2 separate regions of the Homo sapiens genome follow, and region 2 is linked to region 1. A link means that fine-mapping ties the variant in region 1 to the expression of a gene that starts in the linked region. Tissue or cell type: whole blood. Region 1 holds a variant in brackets; the other region holds the start of a gene. All regions are shown on one strand. Distances are from middle to middle.

The links. PIP is the estimated chance that this variant, and not a neighbour inherited with it, causes the effect.
Region 2: it holds the start of ZDHHC13, and the variant in region 1 is the best candidate, but not a certain one, in a credible set for the expression of ZDHHC13 in whole blood (INTERVAL, PIP 0.87).

What each region holds. Positions count from the first base shown.
Region 1 is chr11:19,078,728-19,088,874 of GRCh38, reverse strand. No RefSeq gene overlaps it. Among named protein-coding and RNA genes, the nearest start is that of MRGPRX2, 23 kb to the right of the region's middle. The variant A/G (reference allele first, on the strand shown) is at 5,090.
Region 2 is chr11:19,111,773-19,121,919 of GRCh38, reverse strand. ZDHHC13 (zDHHC palmitoyltransferase 13) reads right to left here and starts at 4,752. Exons shown (of 17, transcript NM_019028.3): 1 at 4,644-4,752. The coding sequence starts at 4,670. RefSeq lists silencers at 4,333-4,562, 4,653-4,732, 4,783-5,022.

The DNA of each region.
Region 1 (10,147 bases):
CAGGTCATCACGGGATACAGCTCATAAAGACCTTGCTGATATAACAGGATGAAGTAAAGAAGCCAGCCAAAACGCACCAAAACAAAGATGGCGATAAAAGTGACCTCTGGTTGTCCTCACTGCTCATTATATGCTAATTAGCATGCTAAAAGACACTGCCACCAGTGCCATGACAGTTTACAAATGCCATGGCAATTTCAGGAGGTTACCCTATGGTCTAAAAAGGGGGGGAACCCTCAGTTCCGGGAATTGCCCACCCCTTTCCTGGAAAACTCATAAATAATCCACCCCTTGTTTAGCATATAATCAAGAAGTAACAATAAGTACAAGCAGCTGAGTGGCCTCTGCCACTACTCTACCTATGGAGTAGCCATTGTCTATTCCTTTACTTTCTTAATAAACTTGCTTTCACTTTATGGATTCACCTCAAATTTTTTCTTGTGCAAGATCCAAGAACCCTCTCTTGGGGTCTGGATTGAGACCCCTTTCCGGTAACATAGAGAGGCAAAAACTCTTCCAGGAAGCAGTCCAGGGCATCTAGACAGGCACCTGGCTGGCCTAGCATTAGCTCACTTTCAGGTGATCTTTCCAATAGCCCTTCCTACAGTGATATGGGCAGAGAGGATTGAACTACTCAGATGTAAGACCTGGGAAGTGCTTTGAGTGGCAATAATAAAAGCTAGAATCTGGGAGCAAAAATGGCTACATAATTTGCAGTACCTCATTTTTTACAAATCACCAAGAATTTTAAGATGGCAACATTAAGCCAACCACAGGGTCCTTCTAAGCATGGGGTCCCATGCAACATCACAGGTTGCATGCCCATGACACTGGCTCTGTCTAGGGGTAAAGATTGGCGCAGGTTCTTATCCAAACGCACACATAGTTTCTTCAAGGGGGCTGCCAAACTCAGTAGGCTCACAGCCTCTTCCCTGGGCAGATGGTAGCCCAGCATTCCAGCTCACACAGTCAGCTTGTGGCTCTTGACCTCACGAAAGGAACAGGAGGCAAGGAACAGGAAATCTGAGTTTCAGTCCTGGTTTTGCTTTAAAATTGATGTGAGTCACCTAACTTTAGGGCCTTAATTTCCTTGCCCGGATTACGTGTTGAGTAAGTATTGTTTCTCTTCCTTTCGATAAAAAAAGGCCCAATTCTGGGATCTCTGCCACATGACCTCTTGTCGGAGTATTTGGAGAAAGACACGGGTCCAATGGTGGGTCTTTGGTTACAGAAAGAACTCAGTGAAATGTATTTGTAACTCACAGCAAACTCCAGATAGTTTTTTGTATCCCAATACCGTCTTATTTCACTAGAAAAGTAATCATTGGCCATTCTCTGAATAATTTATTTGAAGAAACTTTCTTACCTCCTCACCAATTCTTTGTAGGCCCACAGGCGACTGATGCCCTCTCTCTGTGCCTCAATTTCCTCTTCTGTAAAATTGAGACCTGCATTAGAGATCTTCATGTCCCTTTTAGCTCCCATTTCTGCATTTCTTTGAATCTATGAAGTAACTGGTCCAGCATATAGCATCACATGGTGTTGAGATGAACTTAGCTGTCTCTGTCAATAGAAGGTAAGCTCACTGAGGTCAAGAATGATGTGTGATTCACTCTAAATCTCCAGTTCCTGGCACAGTACCTCATGCTCAATTAAGAATGGAATGGACAAATCTATCAATGGATGGACAGGGTCTCTGGAAGAGACTTAAAACAAATGATCCAAGGAAGCGAACACAAAGTTGTAATCAGAAGCAAAGCCCAAGGCAAAGAAAGCGAATGGGGGTAACCACCTATCAAGGGAGATTGAGTACTGGGTGATCAACATCTGAAATGATACAAAGGCAACAAGAAAATTTAAGGCTAAAAAGAGACAAAAAGGGCTGCGCGCAGTCGCTTACACCTGTAATCCCAGCATTTTGGGAGGCCGAGGAGGGCGGATCACTTGAGGTCAGGAGTTCGAGACCAGCCAGGACAACATGGTGAAAGCCTGTTTCTACTGAGAATATAAAAAATAGCTGGGCGTGGTGGCACACGCCTGTAATCCTAACTACTTGGGAATCTGAGTTAGGAGAATTGCTTGAACATGGGAGGCTGAAGTTGCAGTGAGCCAAGATCACACATAGATCTCACAAGATGGGCGACAGTGAGACTTTGTCTCACACACACACCCAAAAATGTCAAAAAGATTTCACACTGGGGAGGTCATTAGTGACCCCTGAGAGAAAAGAAGATACCAAAAGTTTAGGAACAGGTAGATCATAAGGAAGGGACAACAGGCAGAAATGACTATTTCAAAAAATGTGTTGGAAAAAATGAGAGTGATAAGAAGGTAACTGGGCACATGGCAAAATCAAAAGAATTATTGTTTATCAATTTATTTTCTTTAAGAGGAGACCTGTATGTTTATCACAGTACTCTTCACAATAGCAAAGACATGGAATCAACCCAGGTGCCCATCAATGGTGAATTGGATAAAGAAAATTTGGTACATACACACCTGAAATACTATACAGCCCATAAAAAAGAATAACATCATGTCTTTTGCAGCAACATGGATGCAGCTGGAGGTCATTATCCTAAGTGAATTATCACAGAAACAGAAAACCAAATAATGCATGTTCTCATTTATAAGTGGGAGCTAAACATTGGGTACACACAGGCACAAATATGGAAACAGTAGACACTGGGGATACCAAAAGGGGGAAGGGAGAAAGAGAAATAAGGATTGAAAAACTACCTATCAGGTATTATGTTTGCTACTTGGGCAATGAGATCATTAGAGGCCCAAACCTCAGCATCATGCAATGTATATATGTAACAAACCTGCACGTGTACCTCTGAATTGAAAATTTAAATAAATAAAATAAAGTGAAAAAGAAGAGAAGGAGACCCAAAATATTTGTTAACCAAGAGGAAAGATTGAAGGAGGAAAAGGCAGAAAGTTTAAGAGGGAGAGAGGAGGCAACTGATGGATTTATGTCCTGGAGGAGTCAGGAGAGAAAGGGGACCAAGAGCACAGTTCTTTCCCCCCTTGTCTCTGCCACCTATAAATCTGACAAGCAGACCACTGGGTGCTGTAGAGGACATCCAAACAGCAGAAAGAAGTTGGGAAGTGTGGCTCTTGAGGTCCCATCTTACAAATCCTGTGACCGTGATGTTCATGCATCCTTACTGTGGCATGTGGTTCACAAGCAGATGACAGCAATGTGAAGAACATCTTTGAAATATAGTCTGGTGGCGGCTCACGCCTGTAATCCCAGCACTTTGGGAGGCCAAGACGGGTGGATCACGAGGTCAGGAGATCAAGACCATCCTAGCTAACACGGTGAAACCCCGTCTCTACTAAAAATACAAAAAAAATTAGCCGGGCGTGGTGGCGGGCGCCTGTAGTCCCAGCTACTTGTGAGGCTGAGGCAGGAGAATGGCGTGAACCCGGGAGGCGGAGCTTGCAGTGAGCTGAGGTCGCGCCACTGCACTCCAGCCTGGGGCGACAGAGCAAGACTCCACCTCAAAAAAAAAAAAAAAAAAAAAAAAGGAAATATAGTCTAGTGCCTGCAGCTTACCCTGGACCACATTTCCACATTTCCAAAGAGGAAACGAGCCCTTTGAGATGTACTCCACCTGTTTGGGAATGTGGTCCAAGGATGGAGAGTGGTGTAGTAGGAAAAGCACCAGGCTGGAAGTCAGGAGTTCAGATCTAGTCTCTCCTTGTAATTCTTTATGTGCCCTTGGTCATATCCCTTTTTCTCTGGGAGTTGCAGTTTTCCTTGGAAACACAGGAGTTTGAAATAGGTGACTGCTTTATTTCTACATGCTCTGACTGAAGTGTTACAGAGTCATCCTGAAAGAGTTGGCACTCATCTCTGTGGTTCTTGGGCAGCTCTGTGCCTAAAGTGGCCACTGAGGTACAAAGAGCAAAATAGGTAGTAAGTCCTTCTTGGCAATTCTTACTCATGTCACTAGACAGCTCACGGTATGAGCATCGCCTCCAAGAGGAAAACCCACATGTTTGTCAGTGACATTCCAGACCCTCCCGTTTGGGCTGCAGCATCAGCATGACCAAATCATGTTTGGCAAAGAAAGGCTCATGTCTGGCTGTATGCTGATGACATTGATGAAATTCAGTATTGCCTTGGGAGACTGATTTCCTGATGGAGTTCCAAGTTCTGAGTTTATAACTTGGTTTACCCTTTGTCGACCAATTTCCACATAGGATTAAAAGGCAGGTAGATGTACCTTTGCCATTAAATAAATCATGACAAATTATTCATTAATTCATTCAAAAATGTGCATTGAGCAACTTCTATATACATTAAATGTATATGAGTTGGATGCATGGATGATGAATGAATAAATGGAAGGATGGATAAGTGGGAGGATAATTTAGTAAATGGATGGATGACTAGGATGGAGGGATGAGTGGATGAAAGATGGATGGATGGAGGGATGAGTGGATGAAAGATGGATGGATGGATGGATGGATGGATGATGAATGGGTAAAATCATCAGGAGGGAGCTTGACAAAGAAGTAGGAGACCCAGGATCTGGTCTGCAACATCATTTATCAGCTAAGCATATGAGCAAAGATTTTTTCAGTTACAAGTGACAGAAACTTAAAGTGGCGAACAGGGAAATAAAAAAGAAATGTATTGATTAATATATCTGAAAAATTATCATGAGTCTTTGTCTTGCAGCTCTGGTTTCTTTCATGTTAACATCATCCTTACCTAGTCTTTCCCCATCCAGTGGCCAGATTTACCATCAGCACCTCCAGCCTTACATTATTCCAGCTTTGCAACCTCCAAACGAGTGTCTTTCCCCCAAGAGTTCTAGAAAAAGTTCTTGAGAGGGTTCTCATTGGCCCAGCTTGAGTCATTTGCTCATCCCTGAACAAATCCTGTGGCAAAGAGGGTACAGTTCTCCAACTGGTCAGGTCTGCCCTGGACCCACCCACAAAGTCCAGAGATGATGTCTTGTACAGTGAAATGCATGGACTCAGAGTGAAGACAGGGTGGCATTCCCAGAAGAGAAAGAAATGGATGCTGGGCAGGCAAAAATCTTGGAAGTCCTCTTGCTGGGTGACTACA[A/G]GGCAGTTCCTTTGCCACTTGGAACCTCTCAGCCCCCTCCCATGGCTGTCCTCACTGCATAGATTTCTTGTGATGTGAAAGCTCTTTGACAAAGTGGGGCTTATGCTTTTCACTTGTCCCTTATTCAGCACCCATCTGTGGCTCTTCCTCCTTCTCCAAGCCTTCGCCAGCATTTGGCCTCCAGGTTCCTCCCTTTTCTGACTTATGCCACTTAACTTTTCAGGCCATGCAACCTGACAACTAACCATTAGGTGTATTTGGAGCAGAAAAAGTGCCCAGGCCTTTGTCAGGCCCAACAAGAAATACTGCAATGAATAAGACCTCTCTCTCCACACAGGGATCTCCCAGTTTAGTCAGAGACAAGTATCCTTCTTGCATTGTGCTCTAACTGCTCTCTGTGTGAGTCTAATCTCCAAAATAAAACCACTGGCTTTTCAGGGGCAAGACCATGACGCATCTTTCTGTCACCCACATCCCTCTAGGCCATTTTATCCCAAGAGCACCAACAAGGGAACTAGGGCCCTAAGTGCCCCCAACAGTGAAATAGTTGAAAGTCCTACCCCACTGGTCCCAACCTTCCTGCTAAAGGACCCAGTATCCAGGACAGTCTTCCTCTTTGCTACCTCACAGCACCTGCCTTGCCTTCCACACCACCTCACCTGGGGCCCTCAGTCACTGGGTCATTGGGACTTAGTTTAGCAATGGCTTCCATCTTTGGCTTCTGAAGTCAATGGAGCTGTGTGGCCCTGGCTGTCCTCTGGATCTAGACATCTCCAAGCTGACGAAGGAAAGGATCCTCCTCTGGCTGTTTCAGACCACGTTGCAAGGCCAGAAATAGGGTGGTAGCTTCGTGATCCCTTCCTTTAGCCAGCAAATATGTTCTGAACATCCACCCTTCTGCACCCAGCTAGTGTGCTGGGGAAAGAATGGTGAGTAGGTAGGCAGAGTCCTGTCTTTCAGGAACTCACAGACCAGCTGAGAAGACTGCTGGCTCCTCATCCAACCCGAGTGAAGCTTCTCAGACTCCACAGTGACATCCTCTATCCACTCATTGGAACAAGAATGATGGGAACTTAGTAAGAGTACCCTAGCTCCTTGGTGGAGGGGAGTTGGGAGTGAAGGAGAGGAGTGGCCCCATAATGAGCTACTCAAAATGATCTTTTGATGTCATTTGTCAGTCGGGTTCCTGGACTTAGCATATGTGCCCAGATTTACTTTTTCTCTACCTACTGCCAGGGAAGTATTGTGGCAACCATTGGCCACATGCTGAACATCTTGGCCTTGGCTTCAGCCATTCATTTAAGGAAGCCTATTAGGGCTCTTCTGGGAGGTTCCTGTGGCCTTTGCTGCTTAAACCAACGTGCCCAAATCTGCAATCTTGCTTCACTTACATCCTTCACATTATGTAGCACATGTCTGAATGCTGCTGACTCCTCAAAGGACAGCTGATGATGAATAAGTCTAAAGTGAAATAAAGCCAATGATTCAATGGAATTGAACTGCAATAAACCGAATGACCCTCTCTTAAGCACTTACAGACAGAAGGTTTTTTTTGTTTGTTTCTTTTTGGTTTTTTGTTTTGTTTTGTTTTTGTCAGGGTCTTACTCTGTTGCCCAGGCTGGAGTGCAGTGGCACCATCACGGCTCACAGCAGCCTCCAACTCCTGGACTCAAGTGATCCTTCCACCTCAGCCTCTCAAATAACTGGGACTATAGGCACATGCCACCACATCTGGCTAATTTCTTGTTTTTGTTTTTGTTTTTGTTTTGTTTTGTAGAGATGGGGTCTCACTATGTTGCCTAGGACATAGTGAGACCCCATCTCTACAAAACAAAACAAAACAGGAGTTCAAGTTGATTGCATGAACTCTTGGGCTCAAGTATTCCTCCTGCCTCAGCCTCCCAAAGTGCTGAGATTACAGGTGTGAGCCACCATCCCTGGCAGAAGTTGATTTTTTAAAAAGGAGGAACATTTCCTGACCCATCTGCTCTTGACCAAATATCCCATGAACTCCTTCCAAAGGTGAGCATTTCTCTGGCATATTTCTGCTCTTCTCTCCTTTAAACTCAGAGGTAATATTACTCCCAGGATCTCAGTCCCTTTTTCTCTCCCTGCCACATCTTCTTTCTGACATTAAAATCAGTCTCTGTCTTTCATATCCACACAGGGAGGAGGTGGGGTTCAGCTAATGAATATTTGAGAAGCCCTTTGAGATCTTGGATGAAAGGTACCTTATAAAATGCAATTAAAAATAATATGGGTAATTACTAGCTGGGCTAATCCCTGTAGGATAATTAGAGAGTTTTCCTCTGGCAGATTCTGAATTCATGCAGAAACTCAGAGTTCAAAAGGCAAAACTGATTTGAAATTTCAGGGGCCACTGGTATGCTTCCTCTGTTCCAGCATCATATCCGTGAGTCTTTTCTGAAATCTGAGGAGCTTCTTAGCAGGCCAGAGCTGGAAAGGATCTTTGAGATGATCTTTCCAAACTCTTTGGATTACAGATGAAGCCACCAAGACCCAGAAAACTGATGTGTCTGGCTTAAAGCTGCAGAGCAAGTGTGGGAGAGCCACAGCTCAGGTCCAGTCCCTAGACACCCCAATTTAGGGGTTCCTGTCACCACTCCTAATCTATAATGTACTCTCTCCAAATCTCTGCATACTGCACAGTAGAGTACTGGAACAAAAGTCACACAGAGTTGAATTCAAATCCCAGCTCTGACACAGATGAAAGCAAAGTAGCTGGCAAGTAAGCCTCAATTTCCCCATGTGTATAATGGGAATAATAACACCTGCCTCATAGGATTGTTGTGAGGAGTCAATGAGTAATGACACGGAAGCGTCTGGCACAAAGCACGTGTTCAGTCAAAGCTGCTGGAATGAATGGAGTCTTTGCAGTCCTGGGGTTTGACCTACAGTCCTTGTTTTGTACAGCTATGTTCAATCTGCATTTATGGGGCACTTACATGCTGCAGACTGTGCTAAGCTCTCCAGTACTTTATGTCATTTAGTCATCACCACATCCCCTCAAGGTCAGCAGTATGAAGTTGAGCTTCAGGTTGGTTAGCTAACTTGTCCAAGGCCACAGCTGAAGAGGAGGCAGGACTTGGCCCTGTGCGCTCAGCCACCACGTGACACTGTCGTCACTTGTGAGAAGAGGAATGCACATTGTTATAACCACAGTGGAGCCCTAAAAGGGTTTTCTGCTGGGATACAGGGGAGGAGTAATGGAGGGAGATTGGGAATGGTTGTAGCCTAAGAGGATCTATTGAAGCATTTTTGTTTCCAGTTATAAAAATTAAATTCTTCTCCTGCATAAGATTTAATTATTCTGAGGAGGCTGCACTGATGAAAGTAGTTAAATTATCTTCTCTGAAAAGATAATCAAGAAATCTGGATTCAGGTCCTGGATCTGCTCCTTAGAAACCGTGTGTCTTGCTCAAGTCCCTCAACGTTTCCATCTCCCCAAGACTTGTGTTCCTCATCTATGTAATGCCTTATCCCACATGGAGTCTTTGGAGGCTCAAATGTGAGTAACATGGAAGTGCTCTGTCAATTGCAACTTCTGTACAAATGAGAATCATTACTTGTACCATTCATAGTTTAGAAGACTTTCAGTCTGAAGGAGGAGATAGCTGGAAGCCCCAGGCTGGGCTACTAATCCAGCACACTTCGCAGGCTGGGGACAAAACACATCACATAATTTATGGCTCTGAGCTCAAATTATTTGGTTGGAAGTAGGCACTTTGGGGGAACAACCCTTTGAAATTTAATTGTAAATTAATGGGTTTCACTTGTTTCAGGTTTCAAATTTTTTTCTGGGCTGAGACCCAAGATTAAAACCTGATGTGTCACATTCTTTCATTCTGTGTGTTTAGAAGAAAACAGGCCCCTGTGAAAGGCTGCTGGGTGAGGCTGGCAAAGGAGGAAGGAGCTGATCCAAGAGTTGTTAATCACCCCCCAACGATTTCCTCATCAACCGAGCCTTTCCCAAGGACTCCCTAGAAACTTGAATAACCAGGAATGTATTCTTCTGAACTACCCTGTTTAAAACGGACAGCTGAGTCATCCTTTCCAGGGATGTCCAGGGCTGACCAAGAGAATGACAGTGGCTAAGGCTATCAGAGCCAAAGGACACTCAGAGGTTGCTCTCTGCAGCCACCCCAGGCAGGGGTTTTTTGAAGAGATGGTCATCTCACACCCCTAGCGATGGGGAACTCACTCCCTCTCATTGTCAGACACTTGCTGGAAGCTGCTCCAGATCTCCAGCCTCCATTTATCTCTGTGTAATTCTCACCCACTGCTCAAGGGTCCATCCTCTGGAGCCACAGGGCCATGTATAGCCCTCTCCACCACCTGCGTCAACCCTGAGACAACCCTTCCCAAGACTAAGTCCTACAAGTTAAAGAGATGGATGTAGCTGAAAATATATATCTTGAGGCATCAGAAGGCTTGAATTCAAATCTCAGCTTAACAACTCATTAGCTTTGTGACTTTGGGAAATTTGCTTAACATCTCTGATCCTTAGTGTACTTATCTTTAAAACAAATACCTTTGGGGATTGCTGTGAGGATCTAACATATAAAGGAAGAGGAACCTAAGGCCAGAAGTAAAGTCAGACCCAAGTGAATACATGGGAAGAAACTATCACACACTCCGGGGAATTCTGTACCGTCTGGTGGCCTAGACCTGTTACACACAGGACTTTACTAGGAATGAAGGGGTGATTCTGCACTAATCCTTATATCCATGCAGTGCAGGGAGTCAAATTAGAGAGCCCTCTGAATAAAGCCAGGACTCAGAAACAGCTATACTCTCTGAGAAAAAGGATGATTGATGAAAAATAAAACAAACAAAACATAAAACCTGCACAGTATAACTAAGCAGCAAGGAAAAGTGTCTGTGTCCACCTTGATTTACAGTAGTTGGGGGAGAAAATAGTGCCCTGAGGTTTCAGTGCTACTGGCTGACCATTGCATAACTAGGGATTCTGAAATGACACTAATTTACACATGGTCTTAAAACCCTCAAGATGATCAATTGAATTTAAGTGGACCT
Region 2 (10,147 bases), 33 kb before region 1:
AAATAACCAAATTCCTGGTACTGCCACATTGACTGTATGATAGTGGTGAATCATCTACTCTATTTTTGGCTCATTTCTACGTTGGTAAAGTGAAAGGGACATATCAATACACCCATAAAGCTCCTTCTAAGTCTCATGTTGCATGGTCCTAAGGTGAGCTATTACAATAGTCACTATTGACTTGTGAACTGGTAAAGAATTTACTGTATGAACAAACACACTACATGGATAAAGAAGCTTAACTGCTACATGGCTGCCTACAATGTTAAGGTAACAGAACAGACTAAGCAAATTCTCATGATGCCAGCCAACTCCCAAGAGTTTTCATCAATTATTCATTCAGGGAAATATAAAGAACACCTATACAAATCACAGAAGTAGGTAATCAGGGATAAAAGATGAATAAGACACAGTTCCTTCCATAATACATTCATTCTAGACATTTACTGAATGCCTACTACGTGCTGGGCACTATTGTAGACACAGCAACATGGCAATGAACAACAGACAAGGTCCTTGGTTTTCAAGGAACTTATATTCTAGTTAGGGATATACTCCCTTCCCCATTTTCAGAGCAGAGTAAAATACAGACTACTCCTCAGACCTTGACCTAAAGAATGGGTGGACTCCAAGTGGCAGCAAACAATCAAACAAGATCGTATCATGACTGGACCACCTGACTAGCAATGAAAATGCACTGCATCAGGAGCCCTGACACCTGGGCTCTGCTAACTTGCCATGAACCTTTGGAAAGTAAGTTATTATTTTTGCGTCTTGAATTCATGGGAAAAGTTAAAGGGCTAGACTAGATAAATGGTTCTCAAACCTTCCAAATGTCATGGACCTTTTTGAAAATGTTACCAAAATTAAGGCCTCTCTACTTAAGAGAAATGCACAACTGCACATGTAAACTAACTTTTCAAGATGTTCACTAATTTCAAGATGTTCACTAACGCCCTGAAGCTTATCCTATATGCCAGTTTAAGAATCTCTCAACTAGGTAATTCACTGAAAAGCCTTCCAGCTCCAAGTATTCTATGATTCTATTCCATTTTACTTCCTCTCGTCTTCCTAGGATTCCAGTCTACAACCACCTCAAGATACTAGAATAAAATGGTTTTTTTGTTGTTTTTGTTTTAATTAAGATACAAAGGGAAAAAAAATTTAAAGAGGGAAAAAAGAGAGATACCAAGAAAGAAATATGTAGCTAGCTCACTGTCCTCCACAGAAGAGTGAAAAGCAGAACAAGATATTATGAAAATTATCTAACAGACATATGAATACATGTGTGGTAATTTTTACAACATAGCCTCAAAATTATTTGCTACTTCTCCATCAAGAGGTAAAGGTCTATGTCCCTTCCTCTTGACTCTGAGCTTTGTGACTACCTCACAAATAATATATTTCAGAAGTGATGCTGTGCCAGTTTGCAGGCTCAGGCCCTAGAAACTGGCAGCTTCTTCTTCCTGGCTCTTTCATTAGATGGTCACTAATGGAACTCAGCCACTATACTGTGCAGAGGCCCAGGTCACGTGTAGGTGTCTCTACTGAAAGTTAACTGCCAGATGTAAGTGAAGACACTCATAGATACTGGCCCCAGCTCTCAATTCATCTCCAGCTTATGAGTCTTTGCAGCTGAGGCTCTAGACATGGTGGAACAGAAACAAACCAACCCTGCTGCAGTCTCTCCAAGTCCCTGACACACAGAGTCCATGAGCATGACAAAGCCATGTTTTATACCACTATGTTTTGAGGTGGTTTCTTACACAATAAATAACTAGGGCATCTTTAAGCTCTGAGGGATCATGTAATACTTCTCACACAGAGATGTCATGAATGAGATTATTTTTCTAAATTGTATATAAGAATTGTTAAAGTTACAGTGGGCATTAATTTAAGCCAAAATCAAGATTTAGAAAACCACACTTAAACTCCAATGACAGGCATTATCCTGCCAGATTATCGAATAAAAAGAGAGTGAGAGAGAAGGAGCGAGTGAGAGAGAAATATGTGACACTCATTAAAAGTTCTCATGTCATTAAAGTTCTCATTAACAGAAGTACCAGAGTTTAGTTTCCAAGTTCATTCATTGACAAGTATTTACAGAGTACTCACCAGTGCTAGGCATTGTTCCAGATGCCAGGCACACAGCAGTGAACATAACAGACAAAAATCACTGTCCCTATAGTACTAACATTCAGTGGAGGAGAAAGAAACAATAAACAAGACCAATAAGTACGTTAAATGGTGTTAAATGCTGAGGAGAAATCTAAAGCAAGGAAGGAGGCCAGGGAGTGTTGCTGGTAGTGCTGATGATGGAAAAGGCTTGCAATTTTAAATACGGGGGTCACAGAATGCCACACAGAGGTGACATTTGTGTCAAGACTTTAAAGAGGTGGGGGAATAAGCCAAGTGGGCACACAAGGAAAGAGCATTCCAGAAGTAAGTATGAAAGACTCTGAGGCTGGTGTGGCTGGGGATGACCGGGCAAGCAAGACAGTAAAAGATGAGGTCAGGCTGGGAGCGGTGGCTCACGCCTGTAATGCCAGCATTTTGGGAGGCCGAGGCGGGCGGATCACAAGGTCAGGAGATCGAGACCATCCTGGCCAACATGGTGAAACCCCATCTTACTATACAAAAAATTAGCAGGGTGTGGTGGTCCGCACCTATAGTTCCAGCTACTCGGCAGGCTGAGGCAGGGGAATCATATGAACCCGGGAGGCGGAGATTGCAGTGAGCCGAGATCGCGCCACTGCACTCCAGCCTGGCAACAGAGCAAGACTCTGTCTGAAAAAAGAAAAAAAAGATGAGGTCAGAAAGGAAACTGCAGACCTGATTGTATAGGCAAATCCTGGCAAAAATCCAACAGCACCGATCTTGGAATCAAAAGAACCAAATTCAATGAGAGCAGTAATGTTTTTGTCTGTTTTGTTCACTAATTTATCACAGCACCTAAAACGGTGCCTGGCAGACATTCAAAACACATTTGCTGAATGAACGACTGAAGTCTTGGCTCTATCACTTAGCAGCTATTTGACTTGTAGCAAGTGATTCCAGTTTTCTGAGCCTCTGTTCTCATTTCTAAAATCAGAATAATCATTTCTCCCCACCTCAGAGGATTATAGTGAGGATCAAAAATGGGGAAGTATTTTGCAAACTGCAAAGCAGTATATATAGGTGAGGTCTTCACATTACTGAAAAAGTGAACAAGAGCAATTATTATTAACAACGACAATGATCTCTCTACCTTTCCCTACTAAATTCAACCACCAAATCATTCTCTCCCTCTCTATAGGCCATGGAACTGGGACAAGGCTAATCTTCCCTTCAGCATGAGAGAGTGAACTTTAAGCACTTGAAGCCTTCTGTAAATGAGTGGCAGTAATTAAGACATAATAGTTACTCCTACCAACTTTTCTTTGAGCCTCTCTGAGAAAAAGAATGAGGCGCTGTTTCCATGTGAAGATTCAACACCCTTTGGTAAAATCCAGTCTGCCTGAGAACTATTTTTTTTCTGTTAAAATTCAAGAATAACCAATAAGAACACCTTGACATTTCCCCAGACATCTTGTCCCTCACTTAAACCTACACAAGATCGTGCTGAAAGAAGGGAAAGGGAAAGCATGAGGAACACTCTCGGGACTGGAAAAACGTTTTTAGAGATCAGGTAATCCAATCATCCCAAACTGAGAATCTACCGCCTAACTGATTCCAGCTGAAGACAGCTTTAGTGTTCGTTCTCATCTGTATATGGGGATAATATCTTCTTAAGGATGCTTCAATTCTGGAATAAAATAATGCATATGAAAGCATCTGACATGGGTTATGCACTCACTAAAACTGGCTGAACCTGGAAATTCTGCATTTATTCAATAAATATTAAGTGAACGTCTACAATATACTAGTCAGTACTCTAGGCACTAGGAAAGGGCCATAAGCAAAAAGCACAAAAATCTTGTTTTCTTGGAGACAACATCTACCTCCTGTAACTTCTCCGACTGGCCCGCCTGGCTTCTTTGGACCTCCGTCTGGCTTTTATATAACACCTCCTCCACGGAATATTGTCCTTTGAGATTCTGCAGATCGCTGTGGTGTACCTCCCCTCTCCACGCCCCTTTCCTCCATCCTAAACAAGCAGCCTTAATTATTTCAAGGAGTAAGCAAGGATGCGGAAACAGGAGCGAAAACTGGACTGGGTGGGGTGAAGGCGGGTGCTAAGACGCCAGGGCTGAAAAAGAAATCAACAGAACCGCTCCGACTCCGGGCCAACGTCAAGACGGGCGGGTCCGAATCAGGTGTGTCACCTGACACCTCTCCCGGGAAGGGCCATCGTCCCCTCCCCAGGCCCACAGAGGTCCCCGCCGGGCTCCGGGTACCGGCCCCAGGGGGCGCCCTGGCCAGGGATGGAGGCTGGAGGGGCCGGCTCGGGCCCTCACCCCTCAGTCCTCGCCTTTTCTTCCCAGTCGCCTCAGAGACAATTTCCAGCATCGTTCGTGGTGTTTCCAGGCTCCCGCTTCCCAGACCTAGGCCCCGCCGCTCCCGAAACCCCCTCATCGAGCGGCCTCTCACCCACACCATCCTTTCCTCCACAGCTGCAGCCGCTCTCCCGGCCCCCAGGACAGCCACCGCCCGGCCGCACTCACCTGCGAGCCCAGCCCCGGCCCCTCCATCTCCCCAGGAGCCCACAGCGGCTGAGGCTACTAGGCAAGTAGCGACTGCCGCCAGCCCGCCAGCCCGCCTTGGGTCGCCTCTTCTCCCACTTCCTGCTGGCGCCCTCACCTCCGCCGCTGCGGTCCCCGCTCGTGCCCTGAGCCGTCAATCGGTCCCGGAGAACCAATCCCAGCCCTCCATCGGCTAGGGGCGGGACTTTCTCACCTCCTGGGAAGCCCGCTGTGAACAGCTCGCCAGAGGCTCCACCCCCGGCCCGCCCGTGCCGGTCGCTCCCCCAGCCCCAGCCCAGGACCGAGCGCCCCTCCCTGCCCCAGGTGCCACGGGCCCCAGATGTGCGTCCAGGGTCAGGATCAGACTGTTATTCCAACGTCAACCACCATCTATTGAGAGCAAATCTGGACTTGGCTACTTAATTGCTAAATGACCTTGTGAAAGTCTCTTATTTTACCTCAATTTTCTCATCTGTGAAATGAGGAAAATAAGGGTACCTACTTCATGGAATTATCAGGAGGATTAAATGAGAAAACGCATGTAAAGCCCCTCAGCCCGTGCGTTACATATAAAAAGGAATCAATAGATGTTAGCTATTTAAATGTTTTCCACTCCATTTGCGTGATCTTGGGCAAGTCACCTCTACCGCCTGAGGTTCTGTTTCCTCAAATGAAACAAAAAATGAGTTCTACGGCGCAGGCTAGAGGGGGAGTGGGCGAGAGCCTCCCACTTGAAGTGCACCTCCCCCCTGACCTCCACGACCCTTTGTGGAGGGCACTGGAGGAGCTGGCATTTAAGCCCTGTCCAGCTTGAAGGTCTATGAAGCAAGCATTAGGGATGGCTCCTTCCCTTGGGGCGTTCCAGTGGGGCAGTGGGGCTCTCCTACTTCAGCCCCGAGTAAACACTGGGGTTTTTCTAGCCCAGCACTTAACACAGTTCTTTGTAATGGTTCCTTAGATGTGTCTGTTGCCAAGTGGAACCAGATTAAGACCTTTAGAAGCTAATTTGAAAACGATCTGAAAACATTATGACTTCCTTATTTTATAAAAATAATACTAAATCATAAAATAAATAAATAGAAATCCAACAAAGTGCTGGGTTTTCCATGGAAAATATTGCTATGATACAATAAAATCGTAGATGTATTACTATTGCTTTAGTGTCTGTGTCCTTTGGGCACGTCAGCCCTGGCTTGCCCCCAAAAGCCCAAACCCTTTGAGGATAGGAACCATGTCAGATCCATCTCTGAACTCCCAGTGTCTAACACAGCACTGGGACATGGAAAATGCTCAGCACAATTTTAATGAATGATGGATGGATGGATGTACAGGCGTGTCATTAATACACGGACAAATGGAGTGACAAGTAGAAGTGCAAGCAACTCCCACCGAAAGCCAGAGGAAAAAGCAATTAATTCCGACAAGTTAGGATGAGGCATTGGGTGAGGATTCATACAGGAAGGAATGTTTGGGTTTGGTCATTTTGCTTAACTAATAAGAGCTTTCTGGCCGGGCGTGGTGGCTCACACCTGTAATCCCAGCACTTTGGGAGGCCGAGGCAGGTGGATCACGAGGTCAGGAGATCGAGACCATCCTGGCTAACACGGTGAAACCCCGTTTCTACTAAAAATACAAAAAAAAAAAAAAAATAGCCGGGCGTGGTTGTGGGCGCCTGTAGTCCCAGCTACTAGGGAGGCTGAGACAGGAGAATGGCGTGAACCCGGGAGGCGGAGCTTGCAGTGAGCCGAGATCGCGCCACTACACTCCAGCCTGGGTGACAGAGCGAGACTCTGTTTCAAAAAAAAAAAAAAAAAAAAAAGGTTTATTTATTCATCACTTACTATGTGTTGGCACTGTGCTAGTGTTTTCATACATTATGTCTCATCCACGAGATGGGTGGTATTTTCCTCATCTCCTGGGAGGAGAAACTGAGGTTCAGGCTGATTCCATAAACCCCAAGTCACTCAGCAAGTAAGTAGTAAAGAGAGTATTCAAACCCAGGTTTCTTACTGCAAGCATTTTGGCTGAAGTAGTTTGTTTCTTTCATTTTCAAAGTCTGATTTAGAAGATGCTGAACTTGAGGGAGGCTTAAAATCTGTTTCAATGCGTCTGCACTAATATCCTAACACATTGGAAGATTTTGGAGCAACTAAATCCGAACACCCCACTCCTTAGTCAGGCTCCTGGTTTCCCTCTGCTCATGTTTTATGCTTCCAGTGAGCTATTTCAGATTAAGCATATCCATGTCTAATGGCTATATGAAACCAAACGCAGTGATAGCCTCTAACTGCCCCCAATACCTCTCAACTTTGAAAATACCTTTGCTGGGATAGACTGGATTAAGAAAATGTGGCACATATACACCATGGAATACTATGCAGCCATAAAAAATATGAGTTCATGTCCTTTGTAAGGACATGGATGAAGCTGGAAACCATCATTCTCAGCAAACTATCGCAAGGACAAAAAACCAAACATCGCATGTTCTCACTCATAGGTGGGAATTGAACAATGAGAACACTTGGACACAGGAAGGGGGACATCATACACTGGGGCCTGTTGTGGGGTGGGGGGCTGGGGGAGGGATAGCATTAGGAGATATACCTAATGTAAATGATGAGTTAATGGGTGCAGCACCAACATGGCACATGTATACATATGTAACAAACCTGCACGTTGTGCACATGTACCCTAGAACTTAAAGTATAATAAAAAAAAAAAAAAGAAAATACCTTTGCTGGTAGACATAGCCCACTAGAATAGTATGATGGTAGAAGAAGCAGGCTCCTGGAGCCCAGCTCCAGCACTTAGTATCTGCATGCCCTTGGGCAAGTTACGAAGTCACTTGTGCTTCGGTTTCCTCATCTGTAAAAATGAGATAATAACAGTACAGTACTTACTTCACAGTGCTGTCAAGAGAATTAAGTGAGCTAATGTATGTAAAGTACTTAGAGGAAGGTCTGGTACATACTAGGCACAATGTATATGTTAACTATTCTCATCATTGCCATTGTCATCCTTGGGAGTGGGTGTTGGGGAGGGCAATTGACTGTACCAGATGGGTACTGTCATGCCAAGGGCCAACGATAGAGATTCAGCAGGCTCAACTTCTAATTCAAGATTTGCCATCACTTTCTGTGTGTATTAGTTTGGTAGCACCGCCATAAGAAAGTACCACAGACTGAGTGGCCTAAACAAAAGAAATTTGTTCCACAGTTCTGGAGACTAAAAGCCTGAGATGAAGGTGTTGACAGGGTTGGTTTTTTCTGAGGCCTCTCTCCTTGGCTTGTAGATGGCCATCTTCTCCCTGTGTCTTCACATAGCCTCCTTCTTTGTGTAGCCATATCTTAACTTCCTCTTTTTATAAAGATACCAGTTATATTGGATAAGAGCCCACCCTGATGACCCATTTTAACACTATTACCTCTTTAAAGACTCTATTTCCAAATAAAGTTACATTCTGAGGTACTGGGGGTTACAACTTCAACATATGAATTTAAGGGGGACAAAATTCAGCTCATTACACTGTGTGACCCTGGGCAAATCACTTTCGCTCTCTAATGACAGTTCATTTGTTTGTAAAATAGGGATGAGAACAGAGGCTGGAAGCAGTAACTCTACAGTTCTCTCAGCTCTGATCATGTCATTTCCCAGCTGAGACTAAGCTTTACCTTTCCAGTCCCCCCAGCACTTTTAAGTCTCTTTTAGGTGACACTATTTCTCTCATTCTACAAACATATATTGAGTTCCTTCTATGGACCAGGCACTGTTCAGCATTGGGGATTCGGTATTGAGAAAGACAGAGAAAACTGTTTTGTGGCTTCCTGGGACTTACTCTACTGTCTAGCAGTAAGAGACAGACTTTAATCAAATGGGGTCACAAATATTTACTTTTTATAGTCAGCCTTGTAGTTCTTAAGTAGATCCTCTTTCCTCCACTTGGCCACCTCTTTCCTCCACTCAGCCTCCACTTGGCTGCCGGTTGACATCCATTTGTCTGCATTATGTTTTGCACAAGGTCTGGCACATGCTAAAGGCTAAAAAGACGTGTTTTTTAAATAAATGAAGAAACAAATGAGCCCAGTTGAAAAAAAAATGGTTTATAAGACGACATTAAAGGCAGCTCAATTCCATAAATCACTCTAAGATGTGCTGATTTCACAAAGTTTAACCACTATTGGATTTAAAAAGTCCCATATTAAGGTTTGCTAATCCTCCTTGTCACAATATGAGCATCAGCTGACTTTGTTCTGACTAAACTTTTGATTCTGGCCTCGCTTCTTCCATACCTGTGGAAAGGACAGGGATGGTTTTTGAACCAGGGACTTATGGTTGTAATCATTCTGATGGCTGCAACAAAATGACCCTTTGGAATGTCCAAAAACCCCACACATCTGTCAGCAGAGGGCTTCTCACAAACACCAGGTAGGAAATCCTGATGCTCTGTGGTACCAAGCCAGAGGGGCTGGGGGGGGTGAGTGCTTGCTGTACTTTAGGTAGTGAACGTTTGTTGAGCTCTGAACATACACCAGGTCCAGGCTAAACATATGAGTAAAGTGGTGGACACCACAGCCTCTGCTCTTCTGGAATTCAGTCCAAGGGAGGCAAATACTGATAGAGATAAATAAATAGATAAAAAGAAATAGAGACAATGGCAAATGCTAAACAGGAAAAGTGCCAAGAATATAATACAGGAACCCACTTTAGCCTGGGGCGATAGGTGGGGTAGAGAGTCCTCTTCAGAAAGTCATAACACCAGCTCAAAAGGACTTTCCCAACTTCATTCACCCATGGAGAAACTGAGGCTCAGGGAGGGAAAATGACTTGAACAATGCACTTTCCAAAGTAGCAGTGAATATAGGGTTAGGACAACTCTTCTGACCCTGTATGGCTCTCTTGCCAGCGCTTGGGCAGCCTCAGCTTTCTAACTGTAACCCAACTCACAGATGCTCCAGGCTAGGGATTGGGAGATGGACAGGGATTACCTACGAGTCTTGCTCAATCTCTTGTCTTCTACTCATGAAAAAGCTTCAACAATGAAAAGTTAAAAACTCATTTTATATACAGATCACCAAGATCTAGTCATGACATATTTTAAGAACCACAATTATTATCTGGGTTAGGAGCCCATGGTGTGCATTGTATATTTTACTTGCCAGATTAACCAGATTTATATGGTGAGGTGTGTGTGTGTCTGTGTGTGCCAGTGTGTGTATGCAAGGGAGGTGTAGAGAGGGAGAAGGTGAAGCAGGAAGTATTCCTACTACTTTCAGTAGTTACTATTTTGAGTCTTAGTCATCTTCTTGCAGTGATACATTTAAACATCTATGGAAATTTTTTATGGCTATGTCCAAATTGTCACAGCAACACTCAGAATTGGGTAATAAATCTACCTTGACTCTGATACAGATGTGGCAAGACTCCCTTCTCCACCTTCTATATCCTGCTATCATAGTTTGTATTTATTGGTTTATATACCCATCTCC